Homo sapiens: one gene and its partners. The protein of the gene in region 1 purifies or fractionates together with the protein of each later gene. This does not show direct contact. Each region holds a gene or a part of one and is shown in the gene's direction. Other genes may lie near its edges.

Evidence for each region.
Region 2: the proteins of SEC24A (region 1) and STAT6 fractionate together in Homo sapiens (co-fractionation; one large-scale study listed by BioGRID). This does not show direct contact.
Region 3: the proteins of SEC24A (region 1) and USP34 fractionate together in Homo sapiens (co-fractionation; one large-scale study listed by BioGRID). This does not show direct contact.
Region 4: the proteins of SEC24A (region 1) and SHTN1 fractionate together in Homo sapiens (co-fractionation; one large-scale study listed by BioGRID). This does not show direct contact.
Region 5: the proteins of SEC24A (region 1) and USP16 fractionate together in Homo sapiens (co-fractionation; one large-scale study listed by BioGRID). This does not show direct contact.
Region 6: the proteins of SEC24A (region 1) and STMN2 fractionate together in Homo sapiens (co-fractionation; one large-scale study listed by BioGRID). This does not show direct contact.
Region 7: the proteins of SEC24A (region 1) and FAM118B fractionate together in Homo sapiens (co-fractionation; one large-scale study listed by BioGRID). This does not show direct contact.

Annotation. Positions count from the first base shown.
Region 1 is NC_000005.10:134,658,785-134,662,284, forward strand, and holds part of SEC24A (protein transport protein Sec24A), read left to right. Parts: intron 1-2,334; coding exon 2,335-2,802; intron 2,803-2,945; exon of another isoform or gene 2,946-3,005; intron 3,006-3,500. UniProt on the Homo sapiens protein: Component of the coat protein complex II (COPII) which promotes the formation of transport vesicles from the endoplasmic reticulum (ER).
Region 2 is NC_000012.12:57,098,136-57,101,362, reverse strand, and holds part of STAT6 (signal transducer and activator of transcription 6), read left to right. Parts: intron 1-463; coding exon of another isoform or gene 464-814; exon of another isoform or gene 815-1,272; coding exon 1,273-1,367; intron 1,368-1,459; coding exon 1,460-1,596; intron 1,597-1,922; coding exon 1,923-2,069; intron 2,070-2,284; coding exon 2,285-2,348; intron 2,349-2,460; coding exon 2,461-2,571; intron 2,572-2,765; coding exon 2,766-2,858; intron 2,859-3,227. UniProt on the Homo sapiens protein: Carries out a dual function: signal transduction and activation of transcription. Involved in IL4/interleukin-4- and IL3/interleukin-3-mediated signaling.
Region 3 is NC_000002.12:61,464,588-61,468,087, reverse strand, and holds part of USP34 (ubiquitin carboxyl-terminal hydrolase 34), read left to right. Parts: intron 1-3,500. UniProt on the Homo sapiens protein: Ubiquitin hydrolase that can remove conjugated ubiquitin from AXIN1 and AXIN2, thereby acting as a regulator of Wnt signaling pathway.
Region 4 is NC_000010.11:116,928,688-116,932,187, reverse strand, and holds part of SHTN1 (shootin-1), read left to right. Parts: intron 1-2,185; coding exon 2,186-2,339; intron 2,340-3,500. UniProt on the Homo sapiens protein: Involved in the generation of internal asymmetric signals required for neuronal polarization and neurite outgrowth.
Region 5 is NC_000021.9:29,048,668-29,051,827, forward strand, and holds part of USP16 (ubiquitin carboxyl-terminal hydrolase 16), read left to right. Parts: intron 1-93; coding exon 94-188; intron 189-1,424; coding exon 1,425-1,511; intron 1,512-3,160. UniProt on the Homo sapiens protein: Specifically deubiquitinates 'Lys-120' of histone H2A (H2AK119Ub), a specific tag for epigenetic transcriptional repression, thereby acting as a coactivator.
Region 6 is NC_000008.11:79,614,117-79,617,616, forward strand, and holds part of STMN2 (stathmin-2), read left to right. Parts: intron 1-3,500. UniProt on the Homo sapiens protein: Regulator of microtubule stability. When phosphorylated by MAPK8, stabilizes microtubules and consequently controls neurite length in cortical neurons.
Region 7 is NC_000011.10:126,218,282-126,221,781, forward strand, and holds part of FAM118B (protein FAM118B), read left to right. Parts: intron 1-3,500. UniProt on the Homo sapiens protein: May play a role in Cajal bodies formation.

The DNA of each region.
Region 1 (3,500 bases):
AATGGGCTTTTAGAATAGATATGATAGTTTTGTGATGATATCTGTTTAGGTGTGGTGTGGAAATTTCTCATCTCAGGTCATGAGTCAGATTGACATCTTTCCTGGTTGCCCCTGGGAAGTAGATTATGACAATTGAGTTCTTTTGGAAGGCTCTGTTTTAGGCAGATAAGAGATTTTAGGAACTCAAATGCCTTCTGCTTAAAATAATTTTTATGCCATAGTAGCGTATTCTGGACCCCTTCACAATCACTGACCCATTTATTTTTATTTATTTATTTATTTATTTATTTATTTATTTATTTATTGAGATGGAATCTTGCTCTGTCACCCAGGCTGGAGTGCAGTGGCGCGATGTTGGCTCACTGCAAGCTCTGCCTCCTGGGTTCACGCCATTCTCCTGCCTCAGCCTCCCGAGTAGCTGGGACTACAGGCACCCGCCACCACGCTCCACTAATTTTTTTGTATTTTTAGTAGAGATGGGGTTTCACCATGTTAGCCAGGATGGTCTTGATCTCCTGACCTCGTGATCCGCCCGCCTTGGCCTCCCAAAGTGCTGGGATTATAGGCGTGAGCCACCGCGCCTGGCCTCACAGACCCATTATTTTGATGGGCTACTTAGTAATGACTTCAGAATTTAAAAAAATTATCCATTTAGTGAAGGTGTCATTATATATTTATTACTACACTTTTTGTGAACTACTTGTAATTGATCCATATATGATTTTCACATAGTGGGGAGGGATGTCAGAAAAAAAAATTTTCATGTAATAGTTACTCACAATAGGTCTATGATGGTGACTACCACAAAACAAGTTCTTTTGTATCTGTCTTCCTGCCAGTTGGCCTTATGACCTCATATTCTTTTTTTTTTTTTTTTTTTTGAGACAGGATACAGGGTCTCACTTTGTCACAGAGGCTGGAGTGCAGTGGCGTGAACGCAGCTCCCTGCAGCCTTAACCTCCTGTGCTCAGTGATCCTCCTGCCTCAGCCCCAAGTAGCTGGGACTTACAGGCAGGCGCCACCACACCCAACTAATTCTTATATTTTTTATAGAGACGAGGTCTTACTATTATGTCCAGGCTGGTCTCGAACTCCTGAGCTCAAGCTATCTGCCCGCCTTGGCCTCCCAAAGTGTTGGGATTATATGTGTGAGGCACCATGCCCAGCATGTTTTCATCTTTATTGGCCTGTCAAATTTTTGCTTATTTTGTACATTTTGATGGTATTTGGCTTTCACTTGGCTGTACCTGGCTTGAAGGCACCTCTTTAGCGTATTAGCTTGTGATAAGATTGTAAATACAACCTGTTTGCTCACGCCTGTAATCCTAGCGCTTATAGAGGCTGAGGCAGGAGGATTACTTGAGCTCAGGAATTTGAGACCAGCCTGGGCAACATAGTGAGTCTCTGTCTCTACAAAAAAAAAAAAAAAAAATTAGGCCGGCGTGGTGGTGCATGCCTGTAGTCCCAGCTTCTCAGGAGGCTTAGATGGGAGGATCGCTTGAGCCCAGGAGGTCAGAGCTACAGTGAGCCATGATTGTGCCACTGTACTCCAGCTTGGATGACAGAGTAAAGTGCTGTCTCAATCAATCAATCAATCCATAAGTAAGTAAATAAAATTGTAATACAAATATGAAACTAGGCCAGGACATCTTGTGGCAACATTGGGCTGTGAGATGGCCTATTTTTATCCAAGTGACCCAACATATGCTTATATATTATTTTTTTACAAATGTTTTCATTTATTGAGACATCTCTGTATTCCCTCTGTTACTTGCTACTGTTTAGTCCATCTTTTTTTTTTTTTTTTGTCACCCAGGCTGGAGTGCAATGGTGTGACCTTGGCTCACTGCAGCCTTGACCTCCTGGGTTCAAGTAATCCTCCTGCCTCAGCCCCCCAAGTAGCTAAGACTACAGGCGCATACCATCAAGGCTGGCTACTTTTTGTTTTTTTTTATAGGCATGGGGTTTCACCATGTTGCCCAGGCTGGTCTTGAACTCCTGGGCTCAAGCTATCCACCTGCCTTGGCCTCCCAAAGTGCTGGGATTACAGATGTGAGCCACTGCGCTGGCCTTCATTGTGGTTTTGATTTACATTTCTGTTATGACTAATTATGTTTGTATTTCTCTAATGACTGATGATGTTGAATGTTTTGGCATGTGCTTATTAGCTATCTTCTTTGGAAGTATGTTTGAATGTCTATTTAAGTCCTTTGCTTATTTTTTAATTGAGTTATGTGTTTTTATTGCTGACTGTAAGAATATATGTTTTACTTTATTTCTTAAAGTATTGCTATATTCGTTGGTAAGACTAATTTTTCCTCCTTTTATTGGAAGGTCCTGTCCAAAATGCATTGCTGTCTTCACAAGAGTCAGTGAGCCAAGGATACAATTTCCAGCTTCCAGGATCCTACCCTCATCCAATACCAGCAAAGACTTTGAATCCAGTCTCTGGACAGTCTAACTATGGTGGTTCTCAGGGATCTGGGCAGACTCTTAATAGACCACCTGTGGCCTCTAATCCAGTGACACCTTCGCTTCATAGTGGTCCTGCTCCCCGAATGCCATTACCTGCTTCTCAGAACCCAGCTACTACACCAATGCCTTCTAGTAGCTTTCTTCCTGAAGCCAACCTGCCACCACCTTTGAATTGGCAATATAACTATCCATCCACAGCCTCACAAACAAACCATTGTCCTCGTGCATCATCCCAACCAACTGTATCTGGAAATACAAGTTTAACCACAAATCATCAATATGTTTCTTCTGGATATCCTTCACTTCAAAATAGCTTCATAAAGTCAGGTAGTATTCTTATAGAAGTGCTTAAAATGTAGAAATGTGAAACTTTTGCTTATTTAGATGTTTGAAATAATACTTGAAACCTGAAAACCATATGGAAAATGTGACTTTTAAAATTATTAGTAGTTTTTTGTTGTTTTTTGTTTTTCGGCTTTCCAGCAAAAACCAGAAAGCCTGCTAGACAAATTAAGTAAGCTATAACACTCATTAGTAGTTTTTTTTTTCATTCTTTTTTCTCTTTTTTTTTTTTTTTTTTGAGATGGGGTCTTGCTCTGTCACCCAGGCTGGAAAGCAGTGGCACAATCTCAGCTCACTGCAACCTCTGCCTCCCTGGTTCAAGCAATTTTCCTGCCTCAGCCTCCAGAGTAGCTGGGATTATGGGATTACAGGCACGTGCCACTGCACCCAGCTAACTTTTTGTATTTTTAGTAGAGATGGGGTTTCACCATATTGGCCAGGCTGGTCTTGAACTCCCGACCTCAGGTAATCCGCCCACCTCAGCCTCCCAAAGTGCGAGGATTACAGGCGTGAGCCACCACACCTGGCCACATTTATTTATTTTATTTATTTATTATTTATTTATTTTTTTGAGACGGAGTCTCTCTCTGTCGCCCAGGCTGGAGTGCAGTGGCGTGATCTTGGCTCACTGCAAGCTCTGCCTCCCGGGTTCACGCCATTCTCCTGCCTCAGCCTCCCGAGTA
Region 2 (3,227 bases), on another chromosome or scaffold:
GTAATCCCAGCACTTTGGGAGGCTGAGGCGGGCGGATCACAAGGTCAAGAGATCGAGACCATCCTGACCAACATGGTGAAACCCCGTCTCTACTAAAAATACAAAAATTACCTGGGCATGGTGGCGCATGCCTGTAGTCCCAACTACTCGGGAGGCTGAGGCAGGAGAATCACTTGAACCTGGGAGGCAGAGGTTGCAGCGAGCCAAGATTGTGCCACTGCACTCCAGCCTGCCAACAGAATGAGATTCTGTCTAAAAAAAAAAAGAAAGAAAGAAAGAAAGAAAAAGAATTCCTGTTGCAAAAACTGAACAAAATCCCACAGGGACATGTGCAGTAATACCAGCTACCACGTGTTGACAGCTTATATGCCAGGCGCTGTGCTTAACACCTTATGTATGTTATCTCACTTAATCCTCCCAACATCTCTTTGAGGTAGATACTATTATTATCCCCATTTTACAGATGAGGAATCTGATGCTCAGAGGGTTATGTAGTTTGTTCAAGTTCCCAAAGCAGGTGAGTGCCATGGCTAGGAGAGAACCACATATTTCTGACTCTTGCTCTTTTATTTTATGTTATATTATGTTATTTTATGTTTTGGTTTTTTTTTCTTTTCTTTCTTTCTTTCTTTCTTTCTTTCTTTCTTTCTTTCTTTCTTTCTCTTTCTTTCTTTCTTTCTTTCTTTCTTTCTTTCTTTCTTTCTTTCTTTCTTTCTTTCTTTCTCTTTCTCTTTCTCTCTTTTTCTTTCTTTTGTGTGAGACAGAATCTTTAAAGAGAAGAAAGAAATGCTCATGTGACCAGAGGGTGTGTTAGCTAAAGGGAGCAAGACAGTCACACCCAGCAGGTTACCTTCCTTTGGGCGTCACCTCTGCCACACCTCCTTAGGGAGAGGGTGTAGCATAGTAGTTAAGAGGGGCTCCAGGGCCAGAATGCCTGGGTTTAAATCCTAGCTCTGCCTCTTACCAGCTATGTAGACCTGGGCAAGTCATTCGACGTTTTTGGACTTCCATTTCTTCATCTGTAAGATGGAATTATTATAATCCCTACTTCCATAGCCTGGTAAAGAGCAAATAAATATATGGAAAGGCTTGAAATAGTGGCTGGCACGTGTAAGCATTAGGATTGGTCGTTGTCATTGATGGAGTCTCAGGTTCGGTCTGATCCTCAGCCCTGTGATTCTGTCGTGAGGGCACTCACAGCTCACTGCCTGCCCTAAACAGGCTCCAGCTCTGGCCCTCCCTCGGCTCACACCTTTCCCCCTCTCCCCCTAGGAGATCCTGCTGGGCCGTGGCTTCACCTTTTGGCAGTGGTTTGATGGTGTCCTGGACCTCACCAAACGCTGTCTCCGGAGCTACTGGTCTGACCGGTGAGTCCCCACCCTGGGTAGTCTGAGCAGCCATACACCAGTCACCTCCATACTCACTGCCCATGCCCCATCCTCTCCTTCATCCCGGCCAGGCTGATCATTGGCTTCATCAGCAAACAGTACGTTACTAGCCTTCTTCTCAATGAGCCCGACGGAACCTTTCTCCTCCGCTTCAGCGACTCAGAGATTGGGGGCATCACCATTGCCCATGTCATCCGGGGCCAGGATGGTGAGGCCACCCCAGCCAGTCCTCTGTCTCTGTGCCTGTGCCCTCTGGGGTTTCTTCTGGGAATGAAATGTCCTGACCTTCCTGATGCCGATCCTGATCTTCAGGAAGTTCTTCCAGCTTCTCTTCTTCCTTCTGTGGTCTAAATGTTCACCTTCTCACTGTGAGCTCTGTGGGAACGGAGACTAGTGGGTCTCTCTCCCTCAGGAGCCCCACCCTAGGTCCTCTCTCCCTTGCCTTGGTGGAGTGAGAACAGGTCTTATGGTAGGGGTTGGGGAAGGGGAAGAAAGTCCGGACAGAGGGATCTCAGGGTCTCCTTCCTACCATAGGCTCTCCACAGATAGAGAACATCCAGCCATTCTCTGCCAAAGACCTGTCCATTCGCTCACTGGGGGACCGAATCCGGGATCTTGCTCAGCTCAAAAATCTCTATCCCAAGAAGCCCAAGGATGAGGCTTTCCGGAGCCACTACAAGCGTGAGCTGGAACTGGCAGCTCTGATTCCTTCCTGTCACCCACTTCCTCCCTGCTCCCCGCTGCCCTCCTCTCCCTGCCCGCGTGTCATCCTGATGTCACTCCCTATTTCATAGCTGTGCTTCTCTTACTTCCCCATGATCCATGCCCACCTTTTCCACCTCCCTTCCTCCCTAACCCCAGAGCACTCCATGGCTGTCTTTTCCTTCTCACAACAGCTGAACAGATGGGTAAGGATGGCAGGGGTTATGTCCCAGCTACCATCAAGATGACCGTGGAAAGGTGAGTGTGGTGGTATGGACAGTGGGTAGGTCAGGGGCTTAGTGCTTATCTGCAGGAAGGAGGGGTGGCATCAACCCTTGGTCAGTCACATGTACCTCCTTCCCTCCTCCAGGGACCAACCACTTCCTACCCCAGAGCTCCAGATGCCTACCATGGTGCCTTCTTATGACCTTGGAATGGCCCCTGATTCCTCCATGAGCATGCAGCTTGGCCCAGATATGGTGTAAGGAGCTGGAAAGACAGGAATGGGAGTGGTCTGTGCAGATGGGCTAATCTTAGCATGGGCAGCTGGGAGAGCTGGCACTGGGGGCTGAACAGGGAATCTTCCTTTCCATGAGAGGGACACCTGTTCAAAAGCAGGGTGTGGTGGTGTCCAGGAGAAGGGCTGGCATCAGGGGGTCTGTTTTCTTTCCCCAGGCCCCAGGTGTACCCACCACACTCTCACTCCATCCCCCCGTATCAAGGCCTCTCCCCAGAAGAATCAGTCAACGTGTTGTCAGCCTTCCAGGAGTAAGTGAAAAACCTCATGGGGATACCATCCCACTCTAAGGGGGTGGGCATTTGAATTGTTAGAAGAGGCTCTTCTGTGAGAAAGGAGCAGCAAATGCTAACAGCCTGTCTTCTTCTCTTCTGTCCACTCTAATGAGGGGGTAGTAGTTAAGATCTGGACTGCCTAGGTTTGAATTCTAGCTCCACCACTTACTGGTTTGGGGCAAATTACTTAGCCTTTGGTGCCTTATCTGCACAATGGGGGATAATAATGCTAATAATAATAACCTACCTCACTGCATTATTGTGGAGATTAAATGAGTTCATAACACTTAAAAAGCTGAGCATAGTGCATGGCTCATAGCAAAAGCTGTGTAAGTCCAGTCGTGG
Region 3 (3,500 bases), on another chromosome or scaffold:
GAACATGAGTGGTTGGAGCTTGATAAAACTTGTTGAAGTAGATTATATGTGTTTCTTGTGATCTCATTTGCAGTAATTACCTATAAAGTCTGCCCTTTTCCCGCCTGTACCTTGTACAAAGATGAGCATCAGTTCAACGTTGATTTAGAAATTCAGAGTTGGCCGGGCAACTCTGAATACAGCTCACGCCTGTATTCCCAACACTTTGGGAGGCCGAGGTGGGCGGATCACAAGGTCAGGAGCTCGAGACCAGCCTGGCCAATATGGTGAAACCCCATCTCTACTAAAAATTCACCAATTAGCCGGGTGTGGTGGTGTAGGCATCTGTAGTCCCAGCTACTTGGGAGGCTGAGGCAGGAGAATTGCTTGAACCCTGGTAGGCGGAGGTTGCAGTGAGCCGAGATCATGCCACTGCACTCCAGCCTCGGCCACAGAACAAGACTCCATCTCAAAAAAAAAAAAAAAAAAAACAAAGTTACAGTCCTCCCAAAATGTGCTCAGAATTCATCTTTAAATACGACACCCTGTAACAGTTTAGCCAGCTGAGAGAAGCAATAAAATTGTGCATATTTTTGGGTGGTGTGTTTCCAGGTCATGCTGAAAAATACGTAATTAGTATTAAAGCAACCTCACAAAACAGTCAGACGTGGTGGTGCGCCCCTGTAATCCCGCCTCGGCAGGAGGCTGAGGCAGGAGGATTGTTTGAGGCCAGGAGTTCGAGACCAGCGTGGGCAACATAGTAAGACTGCTTTTTTTATTATTATTATTTTTTTATTTTTTATTTGGAGACAGAATCTCGCTGTGTCACCCAGGCTGGAGTGCAGTGGCACGGTTTCGGCTCACTACAACCTCTGCCTCCCTGGGTTCAGCAATTCTCCTGCCTCAGCCTCCCAAGTGGCTGGGATTACAGGCACACGTCACCATGCCCAGCTAATTTTTGTATTTTTAGTAGAAACGGGGTTTCACCATATTGGCCAGGCTGGTCTGAACTCCTTACCGTGTGATCTACCCGCTTCCGTCTCCCAAAATGCTAGGATTACAGGCGTGAGCCACCGCGCCTGGCCAAGACTGCTGTCTTGAAAAAACAAACCAAAAACACTGTTTCTTGTGAAATTAACAAACAGTGATCACACTTAGAGAAGGCTACCTGGGCAAACGAGTGTAATAAATTTTTTTTTTTTTTTTTGACACGGAGTCTAACTCTCACCCAGGCTGGAATGCAGTGTCGGCTAGCTGCAACCTCCACCTCCCGGATTCAAGTGATTCTTCTGCCTCAGCCTCCTGAGTAACTGAGACTACAGGCACCCGCCTCCTTGCCTGGCTAATTTTTGTATTTTTAGTAGAGGTGGGATTTTGCCATGTTGGCCAGGCTTGTCTCAAACTCCTGACCTCAGGGGATCTGCCTGCCTGTACCTCCCAAAGTGCTGCAATTACAGGAGTGAGCCAGCATGCCTGGCCTAAAAATTTTGTTTAAAAAATTTTTAGTTGATAAATAATAATTTTACATATTCATGGTGTACATAGTGATGTTTCAATACATAAAACGTATAGTGATCAGTTGAAGTTAATTAGTATATCCATCTCAAACATTTAGCATTTGCTTTGGGAACATTCAGTATCCTCCTAGCTATTTGAAACTGTATCATATATTATTGTTTTTTTGAGATAGGGTTTCTTTCCCATTGCCCAGGCTGGAGTGCAGTGGTATGCTCTTGGGTCACTACAGCCTCCGCTTCCTGGGCTTAAGCAATCCTCCTGCCACATCCTCCCAAGTAGCTGGGACTACAGGCATGTGCCACCAAGCCCGGCTAATTTTTGTATTTTTAGTAGAGATGGGGTTTCACCACGTTGGCCAGGCTGGTCTTGAACTCTTGAACTCAAGTGATCTGCCCGCCTTGGCCTCCCAAAGTGCTGGGATTATAGGCATGAGCCACCATGCCCGGCTTGTATCATATATTATTGTTAACCGTAGTCATTCTGTAGTAGTACTTATTCCTTCTATCTCACTGTAATTTTATATTCTTTAACAAATCTCTCCCTATCCCTCCCCTCCCTCTACCATTCCCAGCAAATTTTGTTGTGTTTTTGTTTATTTTATTTTATTTTTTTTTGAGACAGAGTCTTGTTCTGTCACCCAGGCTGGAGTGCAGTGGCGCCATCTCTGCTCACTGCAAGCTCCGCCTCCCGGGTTCACGCCATTCTCCTGACTCAGCTTCCCGAGGAGCTGGAACTACAGGCGCCCGCTACCACGCCCGGCTAATTTTTTGTATATTTAGTAGAGATGGGGTTTCACCATGTTGGCCAGGATGGTCTCGATCTCTTGACCTCGTGATCCACCTGCCTCGGCCTCCCAAAGTGCTGGCATTACAGGCGTGAGCCACCGTGCCTAGCCGTGTTTTTGTTTATTAATAGAGACAGGGCCTTGCATTGTTGCCCAGGCTGGTCTCAAACTCCTGGTCTGAAGCCATTCTCCTGCCTCAGCCTCCCCAAGTACTGGAATTACAGGCATGAGCTACCATGCCTGGCCAGTTAATTGTGTTTTAAATGAAAGGGTAGACACAAGTGTGGGTAGTATAGCTTTGTATTAGATATGCACAGACTTTTTGATAAGAGTAAGGACTTAATGTGGAATGTTTAAAGTTTGGCAGAATGCAGTATCGTTAAAAGTAACAGATTATGAACAGTTCGTTTTGTCATCAGTTTTTGGTGAGAGTATTAATATTATTAGTTATACCTCTAGTCCTGAGAATCTGAAGCTGTAAACTTTCACTGTGGAAACATGCAGAGGCATACAGACACAGAATTGTGCTTACAGGTTGAGGACCCGTTGAAGTTTGTTCCTGGAACCAGACTAAGGATCCTATCATAAGTACCCTTGCCCCACCACACCCACCCTTTTTAAATATAATCTTGACACATATCATAAAAGTTGAAACTACATTTCAAAATCATATTTGGCTTTAGTGTTAGAATAACCAATCCCAACAATACTAAAATACTGGACTTGCCATTTTCTTTTCATGCTTCATTTTAAAAACATTTAAAAAGCTTGGATGTATTGAGTAAATTTTGCTGTTATCATTTTGTGGGATTACATTCTGTTTAGGATAAATTTTAAATTTCTGTTCCTCTGCTTGTTCTGTTGAGTTTGTCTGATAACTGCTTTTGTAGTTACTTTTGTGAACCAGTTTACAAAGGCCAAAGCATTTCTAGATCTTGGTGAGGAGTTGGAGGCTTAAAATTACATGCTTTAGGCCATCACCATAGCAAACTCACTAGTAAACTGAGGTTATTTACCTCGTAAGGTAAATTTCTCTGAAAGCAGAGTGAAAATTACATAGTACCTCTTTTTTTTTTTTTTTTTTTTTTTGAGACGGAGTCTCGCTCTTTCGCCCAGGCTGGAGTGCAGTGGTGCGATCTTGGGCTCACTGCAACCTCCGCCTCCTGGGACTACAGGCGTGAGCCACCACGCCTGGTGTACGTCATTGTTTTAAACCACT
Region 4 (3,500 bases), on another chromosome or scaffold:
TATTTACTCGCATGATCATGTGACTGATTGGGAGCTGTGGCTGGCTGCCGCTGCAGAGGATTGTTGAGAGAGTATCTTATTACATATTGCGAGCCTGGGAAAAGATCAAAATCCAGAATTTGAAGTATGGTTTGTATTGAATGCATGTCGCTTTCACACCATTGTAAAGTCGAAAAACTATCTCAAACCATCCTAAATTGGGGACCATCTGTATGTCGCTTAAAATGTTTCTTAGCTGTCTGTAAGTTCCCTTGCAGATGCAGCAGTCTTTTAAGCACAGCATATGGTTTTTGCAATTATAAAAATAGCATATGCTCCTTATAATACATTTTTAAAATACAGCAAAAGTTAAAGAAGATTAACCAAGTATCCCATATTTTGGTGCATAGCTGAACTTTCTGTAAATATATACCTTTATAAATATAGTTTGTTTAAATTGAATCATACTATGCATACTATTTTATGCCTTGATTTTTTTTCCATTGGTAATATATCTTCTCATGTCAGTATATAGTAAGCTATGTGATTTAAAAGTTGCATAGTATTTCATTGAATAAACATGCTATAATTTATTAAACTAAAAATATTGGTGGACATTTAGGTTATTTGCAACTTTTTGCTGTTGTAAAGAATACTTCAGGCCAGGTGTGGTGGCTCACGCCTGTAATCTCAGCACCTTGGGAGGCCAAAGCAGGTGGATCACTTAAGGCCAGGAGTTCGAAACCAGCCTGGCCAATGTGGTGAAACCCTGTCTCTACTAAAAATACAAAAATTAGCCGGGTGTGGTGACATGTGCCTGTAGCCCCAGCTACTCAGGAGGCTGAAGCACAAGAATTGTTTGAACCCAGGAGGCGAAGTTTGCAGTGAGCCCAGATCGCGCCACTGCACTCCAGCCTGGCCGAAAGAGTGAGACTCTATCTCAGAACAAAAACAAAAACAAAAACGAAACAAAACAAAAAACCACTTCAGTGAATATATTTCAGAGTATTTTAAAAAATAATTTCTAAAAATGGTTTTACTGAATCGAAAGCCTTTCCTTTTTTTTTTTTTTTGAAGACTTTTGATACTTATTACTAAATTTGTGTCCCCCAGGAGTCTTTTAAAATATTACCTGAATTTTTCTTTTGAAAATGGGTACAAAAGTGACCCATGTTTAAAAATTAAAGTGTCTGTGTGACTAACAAGCATATAAAAAATGCTTAACATCACTAATCATTAGAGAAATGAAAATCAAAACCACAATGAGATACCATCTCATGTCAGTCAGAATAGCTGTTACTAAAAAGTCAAAAAATAGCAGATGTTGGCAAGGTTTCAGAGAAATGGGACGCTTAAACACTGCTGGTGGGAATGTAAGTTAGTTCAGCCATTATGGAAGGCAGTGTGGCGATTTCTCAAAGAACTTAACACAGAAATACCATTCAACCCAACAGTCCCATTATTGGATATATGCCCAAAGGAATATAAATCATTCTACCATAAAGACACGTGCACACATATTCATCGCAGCACTATATGCAACAGCAAAGTCATGGAGTCAACCTCAATGCCCATCCGTGGTAGACTGGATAAAGAAAATCTGGTACATATTACACCATGGAATACGGTGTAGCCATAAAAAGGAATGAGATAATGTCCTTTGTAGCAACATGAATGGAACTGGAGGCCATAATCCTAAGTGAACTAACATGGGAATAGAAAACCAAATGTTCTCACTTCTAAGTGGGAGCTAAGCATTGATTACACACGGACACAAAGAAGGGAACAACAGACACTGGGGCTTACTTGATGATGGAGGGTGGGAGGAGAGAGAGGATCGAAAAAGTATCTATCAGGTACTATTCTTTTTACCTTGGTGATGAAACAACCTGTACACCAAGCCCCTGTGACACACAATTTACCTATATAACAACCATGCACATGTACCCCGAACCTAAAATAAAACTTAAAAAAAATTAAAGTGTCTGGTACGTAACTCCCCAGTAAATTTATTTTAAATCAGCTCTTTAGCTGATTTATGATTGTGTGTTAATTGTATCTAGCATTTGCATGGTTGTTAAGATGGATTGGAATCTGTTTGCTATGAAGTACAGTCAAAGGGAAATATTTATTTTTTCCCTTTCTTTTCTTTGACAAAGGAAAAACTGTCAGCCATAAAAGTCTTTTTTTTTTAAATAACTTATAGGTCAAAGAATTAGAAGAGCAACTAGAAAATGAAACACTCCACAAAGAAATACACAACCTCAAACAGCAACTGGAGCTTCTAGAGGAAGATAAAAAGGAATTGGAATTGAAATATCAGAATTCTGAAGAGAAAGCCAGAAATTTAAAGCACTCTGGTAAAAGCATTGAGTAGGCTACTATGTCTTACTATTAATCTTTGAATTACTCATGCCTAGTACAAAACCTGGCATATAGTTAGTCTAGAACATTTACTGAATGCTGTGGAAAAATACCAAGATTTGTTTTGAAATTCCTTAATTTCTAACCATTGCAATTCAGTAGAATAGCTGCTGTATTAAATAATTCAAAAATATTTAGACTAATTTTTTGGACTTAGAGCCCTTGTGAACATCATATACAGAATTTAGACACAGAGATACCGTTAGCCTAGGAAGACCAACTTTTCAGCATTTTTCAGAGCTTCAGAGATGAATGTTCATTATGTACTTTATTTTGTTCACTTAGAGTGCATTTTTAGAAAGAATTAAACTTTTTAAAAATACTGTCTTCATCTTTGGTGTTCATACTACCTTCATCTTTGGTGTCTAATAATACACATGAAATAATACTTTCTATATTGTACCTAACAATGAACTGGGCAACAATATATCTATTAAATGGAAAATCTTTAGAAACACCAGGGGATACTTAAATCAAAAGATTTATTCATTCAGTTCTAGAAGGCTTAACGGGAATGTGCGAGTTAGATTACTATACGGGCATATGTGTAAGTCTCTGTTGGAAGGTCGGTAATTTAAGAAGTCAGGTACATTCCCTTTATAATAGCTTCAATATTCACTTCAGATATTTTTGGTTAATTTTATACTAGAATTTTGAAACCTATGCAGAAGAACCATGTAGGCCTTTTTTCCTTCTAAAAGCATTCAGTGCTTTCTAATCCACAATGAAAATTGATTATAATTTATTTTTTAATTGATCCAAAATTAAGAAGTATTTCATTCTTTTTAGTGAATATCAGAGTAGCCTGTAGCCAAAGCCATCTTTATTATGAATAGAGGAGGCAGACACTGGAAATATATAAGGTTCAAATCTGAATGCCTTCTATTAATACTTATTATCTGCTGTGTGTGTACCCAGCCCTATCCTAGGAAACAATAAGAAATACAGAAGAAAAGAAACCATGCTTTTTGTCTTCAGAGAACTCAGATTCCCCTTGGAGGGATAGGTGCATGCACATAAAAAGACTAGAGGATTCTCAGTTTTGGAGAGCATAGCCCACACTGCCTATTTAAGTGTTGAGGGTAAATACAAATGGA
Region 5 (3,160 bases), on another chromosome or scaffold:
CTTTAGATGTTTGGAATGATTTTATAGCAAATCTGAATGCTTTAGGGGTCTAAAATGATTTTCTCCCTGTTAAAAATTTCTTCTTTTCTTTAGGTGAAAGGAAGCATGTTTACACCAATGCCAAAAAGCAGATGCTAATTTCTCTTGCTCCTCCTGTTCTTACTCTTCATTTAAAGAGATTTCAGCAGGTACTCCTTGTTACCCAAAATTTGTTTTAAATATGTAACACCTACTTTATTACCTATTTTTTTCATTACTGTCTCAACATACTACTTTGTTTCTTTGGTTTTCTGTTGTTTCTTAACTGTAATGTCAATGAAGTCAGAAAGGGAAAAACATAGGGGCTAGGCAGAGGCGCATGTGAAGATGGAGGCACAATCTCCTCAGATTTCCTAGAACTCATTTATGTCCCTCTTTTTAGTACGATTGGCATCTTACTTTTATTTCAGGTTAAAAAAAGAAAAAGACTGGTGTGTTACATATATCTCATGCTTAGGAATATTAGTGATTTTTTCTGTTTTGTGTGTGGCATCTTGTTTTTACGGACCCTTGATAAAAAGACATTGGTGCCTTGGATTGTCATCATTTTGGTGACCTCATCTTTTCTGGAAAACTTTTGCTATAGCTGTATAACTTCTAAACTGTGTTGCAAATTCCGAAAGTACTTTCAGTATCTTCAGAACGTTTTGCCTCTTGTGGTTGGTATGGGCTTGACTAATTGGGTGGGCCTTTATTAACAATTCACTAAGCTTGGTTTGAGCATGAGGCTGAGAGCGTGTGTTTCACAGAAAAGTATTATGCTATCGCTGAGTTTTAAGCACTCAGAACCTGTGGTCTAATCTGGCATTTCTGGATGGCTGAAGCAGAAACATTGAGAATTTTCTCACGAGAAAAGTTGTTTTTCTTCTTTTTGAAACAGTCTTGTTCTGTCACCCAGGCTGGTGTGCAATGACACGATCATGGCTCACTGAAGGTTTGACCTCCCAGTCTCAAGCGATCCTCCCACCTTAGCCTCTATAGTAGCTGGGACTATAGGTGGCTACCACCATGTCCAGCTAATTTTTTAATTTTTTTGTAGAGACAGAGTCTCACAGTGTTGCCCAGGCTGATCTCGAACTCCTGGGCTCAAGTGATCCTCCTGCCTCAGCTTCCCAAAGTGCTGAGATTACAGGCATGTGCCATCGTGTCCAGCTGGGAATAGCTTTCTTAATGTGTTGGTGTGTGTTTTTTGTGTGATACATGTGTACTTAGCAAAAGCAAACCAACTTGGAATCAGTTAGTGTTCAGGAAGAATTGAGTCTCCAAAGAAAATTGAACTAGGACTTAATGTTGATATTCTTTTGGACGTCGGAGGGGACTTCGGTTTACTTAACCTGTATTGCTTTTCCAAGAAAAGAAGTCAATCTGTTATGCTTCTCTTTTAGGCTGGTTTTAACCTACGCAAAGTTAACAAACACATAAAGTTTCCGGAAATCTTAGATTTGGCTCCTTTTTGCACCCTTAAATGTAAGGTAAGTCAAAGTGGTCTTTTTCAGGAAAGTCCTTTAAAGTCAAATTGTGGCTTACCTAATGCTCCAGTAGCAACTCACTTAAGTATGAAGTTGATAACACTTATTGAGTAGAGTGGGTCTTTGATCATTGTACCTTTATAATTTGAAGATTAGTGATGAATCATTTTGAAGAATGGGTTATTTCAGTTCAACGTTTGGAATCCCCTTTATTATGGCATACATTGTCTTGTGAGCGGAGGGCATAAAACTAAAGGTGAGCAGATCTATTAATGAATAATCTGTTTAATGTGGTTGAATGTTAAGGCTGGTGAACATAGGTCAGGAGTGGTATACACTTAACCCAGCATGTTGGTGGTTCAGGAATGGCTTTGTAAAGTAAACCATGCCTCAACTATATTTAAAGAAGGAGTAAAAGTATGATGAATCAAGATGAAATGAGTTTTGCAGGCAGAAGGAACAGCAGGAGTAAAAACAGCAGTGTAAAATAGGATGGTGATTGCCAGAGACTGGTAACGTATGTAGTTCTAGAGTTTATAGTACAAGGTTATAGGGAGAGTTGAGAAATGAAGCCAGAGAAGTGAGATAGGAATGAAGTTTTGGAGGGTTCTCATGGTGAGGAACTTGGACTTCATTAGGTATACAGTGGGGAGCCCTGAGGAGTTTAAAGCACTGGGGTGGCATGGTCAGATCTTCATATGACGTAGGTTACTTGTTGATGTATGAAGGCTGAATTTTAGGACGGAAAGACTAGAGGTGGGGAAGTGAGTTTGGAGGCTGTTGTATTAATTCAGCCAGTAGTTGATGAGGGCTTAAAGTTGGGCAGGAGATGGGGAGATAGAAGGAATATTTCAGGAGGTAGAATTAACCAGACTTAATGATTGATTGGCACTGTAAGGTGAGGCAGAGGCCTTTTATAAGTGGATGCTGAGGGTGGCAGAGAAAGGGTTGAGGATGATTCCTGAGGCCTGGCACGACAGATGGGAGTGCTGTAAATTGAGATAGGATATATAGGGAGAAAAGCAGGTTGAGAAAAGCAGGTAGAGAAAGGATAATGACTTCAGTTTTAGATACATTTGAGTGTCAGATACCTTTGAGAAATTAATGTGCTTAGTCTAGAAAACATTTGGATATACATATCTGAGACCTATAGCAGAGAGGTTAGGATGGGCCCAGGGCACAGATTTAGAAATCAGTACATATGTGGCAGTTTAAACTATGAGAAGATGGGATCCCTTGTGTATAGAGTCTGAAGAGAGAAAAAGGAGATGGCCAATGACAGGACCCTCCTAAGTATCTGAGTGGAAGAGGCAGGGGTAGAAAGTGAGGACACCACAAAGGATCTCAAAGAATCTCCATGTTGAAGAATTTGGGGCTGGGCGTGGTGGCTTACGCCTGTAATGCCAACACTTTGGGAGGCCGAGGCGGGTGGATCACTTGAGGTGAGGAGTTCGAGACCAGCCTGGCCAGCATGGTGAAACCCTGTCTCTACTGAAAATACAAAAATTAGCCAGGCATGGTGGTGTGCGCCTGTAATCCCAGCTACTCGGGAGGCTGAGGCAGGAGAATTGCTGGAACCTGGGAGGCAGAGCTGCAGTGAGCCGAGATTGCGTCACTGCACTCCTGCCTAGGTGACAGAGCAAGAAACTCCC
Region 6 (3,500 bases), on another chromosome or scaffold:
ATCCAAATAAAAATCCCACCCCAAATATGACAAACGCAAGCATCCTTTCTGGCCATAATTTAACTGCATTTGCAAATCATGAAAAAAACACTACTTCTGCAGTATTAAAATAATAGATTTTGAAATTAATTCCAATTTCAAAGATAATTAATTATCAGGGCGAGTGCTTTTTTCCTGATTCATTAAACAATTATGTATTCAGCATGATTGTAAGAGGTGCATATAATATTCCCCATTATCTTTTCTAATGAAGTGGGCACCTTCTGAATGGATATATAAGTAACTAGAAATGAAAAGCTGAGGATTTGGTCAGAATTTCAGGATAAAACTGAAAGAAATGGCAGTAGTTTATCAATTAATCTCATGTATTTAGTTTATACCAGGTGAGTAAGCTGAGCCTGCAATAAACACTCTCTGTCCCAGTGTAACACGTCGCAGGTAGCTAGAATGATAGGATAAATTAATAGACCTTGTGGTGTTTGTCTATGCACGTTAAAATTCTCTGAGAGAAAGTATATTTTAAAATGATAATTAAGATTGGACATTTGTGCTATTAAAATCTACAACTTTAGTCAAAATTCACAATGGTTTTTTTTTACAATAATGTGACTTACAGATTTGTAGTAAATTATTCTATTCTAAAAGAGAAATGAGTGTTTTTATTGTTACAGCTATTACCTCATTAATATTTTTAGCAAACTTTTATTTGTTGCATTGAAAGCAGTTTTAATTACTTTGGGTTTTTATTTTTCAAATTACTAATGGATAGATGGTGGAATAAGCATTTAATCATTTGGCACAATATGACTTCCATCAAATAGCTCATTCTCAGTGATTAAAAAATGCTACAAGAGGCTACAATTTACTCAGATTCAGGAAATGTCCTTTCAGAGTGCCATAAGGCTGATTCATATAATAAAATAGTTTTCTTCCCTATAATTTAAGATCAAATAGTTACTTAGTTCTGTGAATACCTAGCAGTAGCTATCAAACAGAATTTTAAAGTTAAATCTGTACAACTAACAATGAAGTGGAGGATGAATCGATACATATTGAATGGAAGACTTTGTCATTGATAAATTCAGGCCATCTTTAGGAAAATTCCGGATTTATCAATCACCATTATTTTTTACTTCAACTGAGTGTGACTGATCACATGCTCAGGCTACCTTGGTAGCTCATTGCTCACAGGAGGCTGAAAAAAGCTGGCCTCCGAGCAGGAGGAAGCTCAGAGCACAAACCTAGGCCTGGGCGTGGCCACTGGGAGCTGCTGATAGCGAACCCCAGCTCACACCAGTTTCTTTTTTGGTCGTGGGAAGAAAAACACATATTATCCTGTTGTCACAAGATCTGTGACCTTATATGAAAAAATGCTAGAATTTTTTCATTAAAAAAGAAAATACTGAACTAGCCAGTGACCCAGATGTTTTCAGAACCTAGACTGGTTCTGTCCATTGGAAAACCTCGGTGTCTGCATTAACTTTTCACCACACTAGAGGGCAATCATGTTCTCTAAAAAAGCAGATGATTGATGTAAACCTAGTTCCAAATATTAACTGTTTAATAAAATCTTTTCTTTTACCAGGAACATTCAAGTGTTTATTCAATAAGCTGATGCCATGCTTTACCCTAGTGGATGAACAGAGCTTGTACAATTTTCAAGGAGACAGGATGAAATGAGTGGTCATAATCTGAAAGTAGATACACGCCCTGGTTAATTATTCCCTGATGGTTTTACTTCTCAGTTTTATTACATTGTTATTATAATACCATTTATGTTACTTCTGAGATTTTGTAGTGGATAAATAGTAGAAAAATGTCAGTAGTAATAGCAAAGTTATTTAGCAGCCGAATATTTTAATGCTTAAAAATAAAGGAATAAATTAAAGAAAATCATTGTTTACTTCTTCATCGATTGAAATGTGCCCCCTGTTCAGAGCACATCTGAATATCAGAGTCTCCACCTGCAGAGAACATGCAGCTTAGCGAGTAAAACAGGCAGGTATGTGATACTGAGGAGGTGTACCAAAAACTGACTGCTGTTATTTTTCCCATCTTCTAAGTCTGTCTTTCTTTTCCATTTAAAGATACCTTTTTAAATCTAATCCAATGTGATTTCAATCTAGTTTTATCAGATTTCAACAATTATTGAGCATCTCCTTGTAGTGGTTTTCTGTTTATTAGAAAATCGATGTTAATTTTAACGAAGTAAGAAGAAATATATAAGTATAAACTAATTTTGGGTATCATCAAAAGTGGATTTTTTAAATATGCATTGATAGAATTATTTTTTGATTACATTTTATGTAATTCTAATCCAGCTATAAAATATTTAATAGTGTCATATTACTGTGTTCCTCAAACTTTGATGTGCATATGAATTACCTTTGATTTTCATTAAAATGCAAATTCTGATTCAATACATCTGGCTTGAGGCAGACATTCTGTCTTCCGAACAAGCTCCCAGATGATGCTGATTCTGACCACTAAACACATCAGTTTTAGGGATATTAACTTGTAATATACAGGTATCCCTCCTGGTAAGCTCTGGTATTATGTCTTAACATTTTTAAATCTATGGTAATCTTTACAAAATATTTTACTTCCGAACTCATATACCTGGGGATTTTATTACTCTGGGAATTATGTGTTCTGCCCCATCACTCTCTCTTAATTGGATTTTTAAAATTATATTCATATTGCAGGACTCGGCAGAAGACCTTCGAGAGAAAGGTAGAAAATAAGAATTTGGCTCTCTGTGTGAGCATGTGTGCGTGTGTGCGAGAGAGAGAGACAGACAGCCTGCCTAAGAAGAAATGAATGTGAATGCGGCTTGTGGCACAGTTGACAAGGATGATAAATCAATAATGCAAGCTTACTATCATTTATGAATAGCAATACTGAAGAAATTAAAACAAAAGATTGCTGTCTCAATATATCTTATATTTATTATTTACCAAATTATTCTAAGAGTATTTCTTCCTGAATACCATGTGAGAAAATTCTTAAGAATTTATTGAGTATGACTGTATATTTGAAAAGAGTGTTTTCTTCTGCTTATCTAAGCCAATAAAGGATCTTCATTATTCAATTCTAACTTTCTAAGGAAGTCAACCTACAGATCAGAAAGAGGATCTTCAAGGAATAGCATCAAAGACATAGTCAGGTCTCCCATGCAGTGACTGGCTGACCATGCAGCCATTACCACCTTTCTGGAAATATTATGCTGCAAAAATGATACAATACACGAAATATCTCAAATTAAAAAATATAACATTTCCCAAATAGGGCACTAAAAACATGATCCCAAATAAAACTAGCTTCAGGGTTTGCAGAATATACTGTTACTCAACACAAAGTTGGACTAAGTCTCAAAGTTAGCCATTCAGTTGTTGTTAACAGTTCATTTCAGGGTCTCTCAGAAGCTGGGAAACTTTCCATTTTTGCAATTTCTTGTACATTGAAGGAAAGGAAGACACACTTAAGACAGCATTACAAAA
Region 7 (3,500 bases), on another chromosome or scaffold:
TGTCTGGATGTGTCTTCCCTCAGATATCCAGCGACTTGCTCCCACACCTCACTTTGGATGAATCCACAAGTCTTTCCTTAAATGTCACCTCAGTGAAGAGAGCACTGGATTGAGAAGTGCAGACCCCCATCTCACTTCCCTGCTTTGTTTCTCTCCAGAAGCATTTCCCACCATCTAGCATCCCACATATTTATTTACTTGTTTCCCTCACCACTAAAATAAACATTCTATGAGGGCAGGGATTTTGGGTTTTTTTTTGTTTACCTCTATAATTCCAGCCTCTGAAACAGTGCCTGGCGATGAATAGATGCTTAATAACTTAAGGAATAAATGAATTATTTTATTGTGGGATTTCTTTGAATGTCTCATGATTCTGACTGTTCATTTCTGTTTTGTTTTTTGTTATTTTAAGTTCCCAGCGTGGGTCTTGTTGGGTGGTGGCCATTACTATAGGGTGGCTGGTATATATGGATTTTGTGTGTATGTTTGTACAAATGTATATGTTTGCTAATATTTCTTTAGCTGACAGTGCATTGGTTGCTGGGACAAGGATGGAGGCTTGGAGAACCTTTTAGTATGCATCTTTTGACATAATCTGTATTTTCAGTTCTTCATTGCTCCTGCTGATGTATTTTACTCCAGACCCATTTCAGATTTCGGTTCATTTTTCTTTAAACCTCTGGATTTGGGGGTGGAGAAAATAGATGAAAATAGGAGGTGAGGAAGAGAATTTGCGCATTAGTTAAATAGACTTTATGCCAATCCGTATTTTCAGATCTGCATTTAAAGCTTGCTTTCCATCTCCAAAAATTCATTGAAAAATTGAATGCTTATCTCCTGCACCTCACATTCTTGGTTTTATACCTTGAAAAAAGAAAAACTCCTCTGTTGCCATTTTAATAGCGTACTTTGAAAAAGATTAAGAAGTAAACACGTAAGGACAGAAGTTATCATGTTTTATATTCTTAGTGTCATGGAATGCAGCACAGGAATATCACATAAGGAAAAGCACAGATTTCTTGTTTTCCTCGTTTATTTTGGAAGCTTATCCTTCAGCTCTTGTTTATCTTTTTTTTTTTTTTTTTTTTTTTTTTTTTTTTTTTTTTTTGAGAGTCTCTCTCTGTTGCCCAGACTGGAGTGGGCATGATCATGACTCACTGCAGCCTCGACCTCCTGGGTTCAAGCAATCCTCCCACCTCAGCCTCCCAAGTAGCTGGGACCATAGGCATATGCCACCACATCTGGCTAAGTTTTTTATTTTTGTAGAGACAGGGTCTCCCTATTGTTTATATGCCTTAAGAGTCAAATTAACAGAGTACATAAGAAACACTCTCTTTTTAGCTCTCTTGCTAAGGAGCAGGTTTGAGATCTGTTGCCAGAACTTAGTACTTCGCAGTTTTATGGATTCCTCAGGAGTCTCGTCCATGGGGCTGGGGCGTGGCTACCCTCTGCTGACTCTTCCTAGGTTCCTGCTCTTCCCCAGCACCTCCCTACCCCCAGCCACTAGAAATAGACTGCTTCTTTCTTTCTTCTACTGCAGAAAACATGCACTACTGTACTTATTAAAATTAACTTAAAAAAAAAAAAAAAGCAGCTCGAGCTGCTTGAGTTTTTTTTTTAAGTTAATTTTAATAAGACATTGAAGGAAGAATTTTTTTTAAAGGGGGGGCTTATATGTATGGAGATTTATGGTGTGAAAGCAGGGGCAAACTCTAATGAATGAAGTTTTTAGAATTGATATGAACATGAACCCAAGATACTCAGACTTATTCCGAGAGTTCCTCTTAAAAACTGCTTTTCTCCACATAAATCCGAATGTCAGCAGTGGTTAGCTCCACGTTGGAGGAAGGGGGGCTTCATTTTGCTCTTTCTGCATATTTCCTGCAGTGATCTGTTACTTTCAAATCTGGGGGAAAGGTGCTCTCTTTTTCTGAATGAAGTCTCCACCTGCCTCCCTTGGGCCCAGGCTGCCCAGCTTTCTGGCTGCTCCCTGAGAGTCCTCCTTGGTCTTCCACTGACCTCCTTCACTTCCTTATGAAAGTATGTTTTTAGTCTCCCTAACCTGCTTTCTGTTTTCTCTCTCTCTCTTTTTTTTTTAATACCCTCAATTGTTTTCACTGGCCACTTTTTTTTTAAGACTGATGCTTGGCTGGGCTTGGTGGCCCATGCCTGTAATCCCAACACTTTGGGAGGCCAGGGCAAGAGGATTGCTTGACAAGGCCAGGAGTTCAAGATCAGCCTGGTCAACATAGCAAGAGCCCATCTCTACAACAAAATTTAAAAATTAGCCAGGTGTGGTGGTGCGCACCTGTAGTCCCAGCTGCTTAGGAGGCTGAGATAGGAGGATCCCTTGAGCCCCAGAGTTTGATGCTGCAGTGAACCATGATCTTGCCGTCCTGGGGAACAGAGCAAGACTGTCTCAAACAAAAAAGACTGATGCTACCTGCTTGGCAAAACCATGTTTTTAGAGCTATTTCTCCTAAGAAACCTGGTCTTTGTAGTTGTTCTGATGGCTTCTGTGACAAATAATGCCTTTTTTTTTTTAAGAGCTTTCAGATTCTTATTTCAGATCTAAACAGTGCTTTTCAGCTCTCAGTTCATCTTCAGATCAAAGAGAATAGTAGGCCGGGCGCAGTGGCTCATGCCTGTAATCCCACCACTTTGAGAGGCCAAGGCATGTGGATCGCTTGAGGCCAGGAGTTTGAAACCAGCCTGGCCAACATAGTGAAACCCTGTCTTTACTAAAAATACAAAAATTAGCCAAACATGGTGGCGTGGGCCTGTAATCCCAGCTACTTGGGAGCCTGAGGCAGGAGAATAGCTTGAACCCGGGAGGCAGAGGCTGCAGTGAGCTGAGATCAAGCCACTGCACTCCAGCCTGGGTGACAGAGTAAGACTCCATCTCAAAGAAAAACAATATTAATTTTTGGCTAATTTTTATTAGGAAAAAGAGAATATCCTGAAAAGAATATCATGCTAGTTTAAGGTTACAGATTTACTTTCTTCCCTGGGTTCCCTTTGGTTCATATTCTCTTGTTTAGAAATGATCCAAATACATTATTCTGAAGTATATGACAGTTTTTCCAAAATCAGTAAATACATATGTTGGTGCTTAAAACAGAAAGAAAGAAATAATGGCCTATAAATATTATCACATAGCTTATTTCTACTATTCAGAGATCTGTATAACTTAGGATAAGGAGCAGGTTGTTGAACGGTTTTTTGGTTTTTAAGTTTGAAGTACAGTCTGAAAGTACCTTTCAATATTGAAGGGCTGCCTGACTGAAACTTACATGGCTATCTCCTGGGCCTGAAGCACCACCGAGATCTGAACTGAAGGTAGCGTTTTGGGAGTCCTTAGCGTTTAGTTGGTATTTTAATATCTAGGGGTGAATGGGGTGGGAAGGGAAGGGAGTATGTAAAGGGAATAGACTGGAGAGCCCTGCGGATCCTCAGCATTTAGGAAACAGGGAAGACCTCCCACTAGAGGGGAGGGAGGA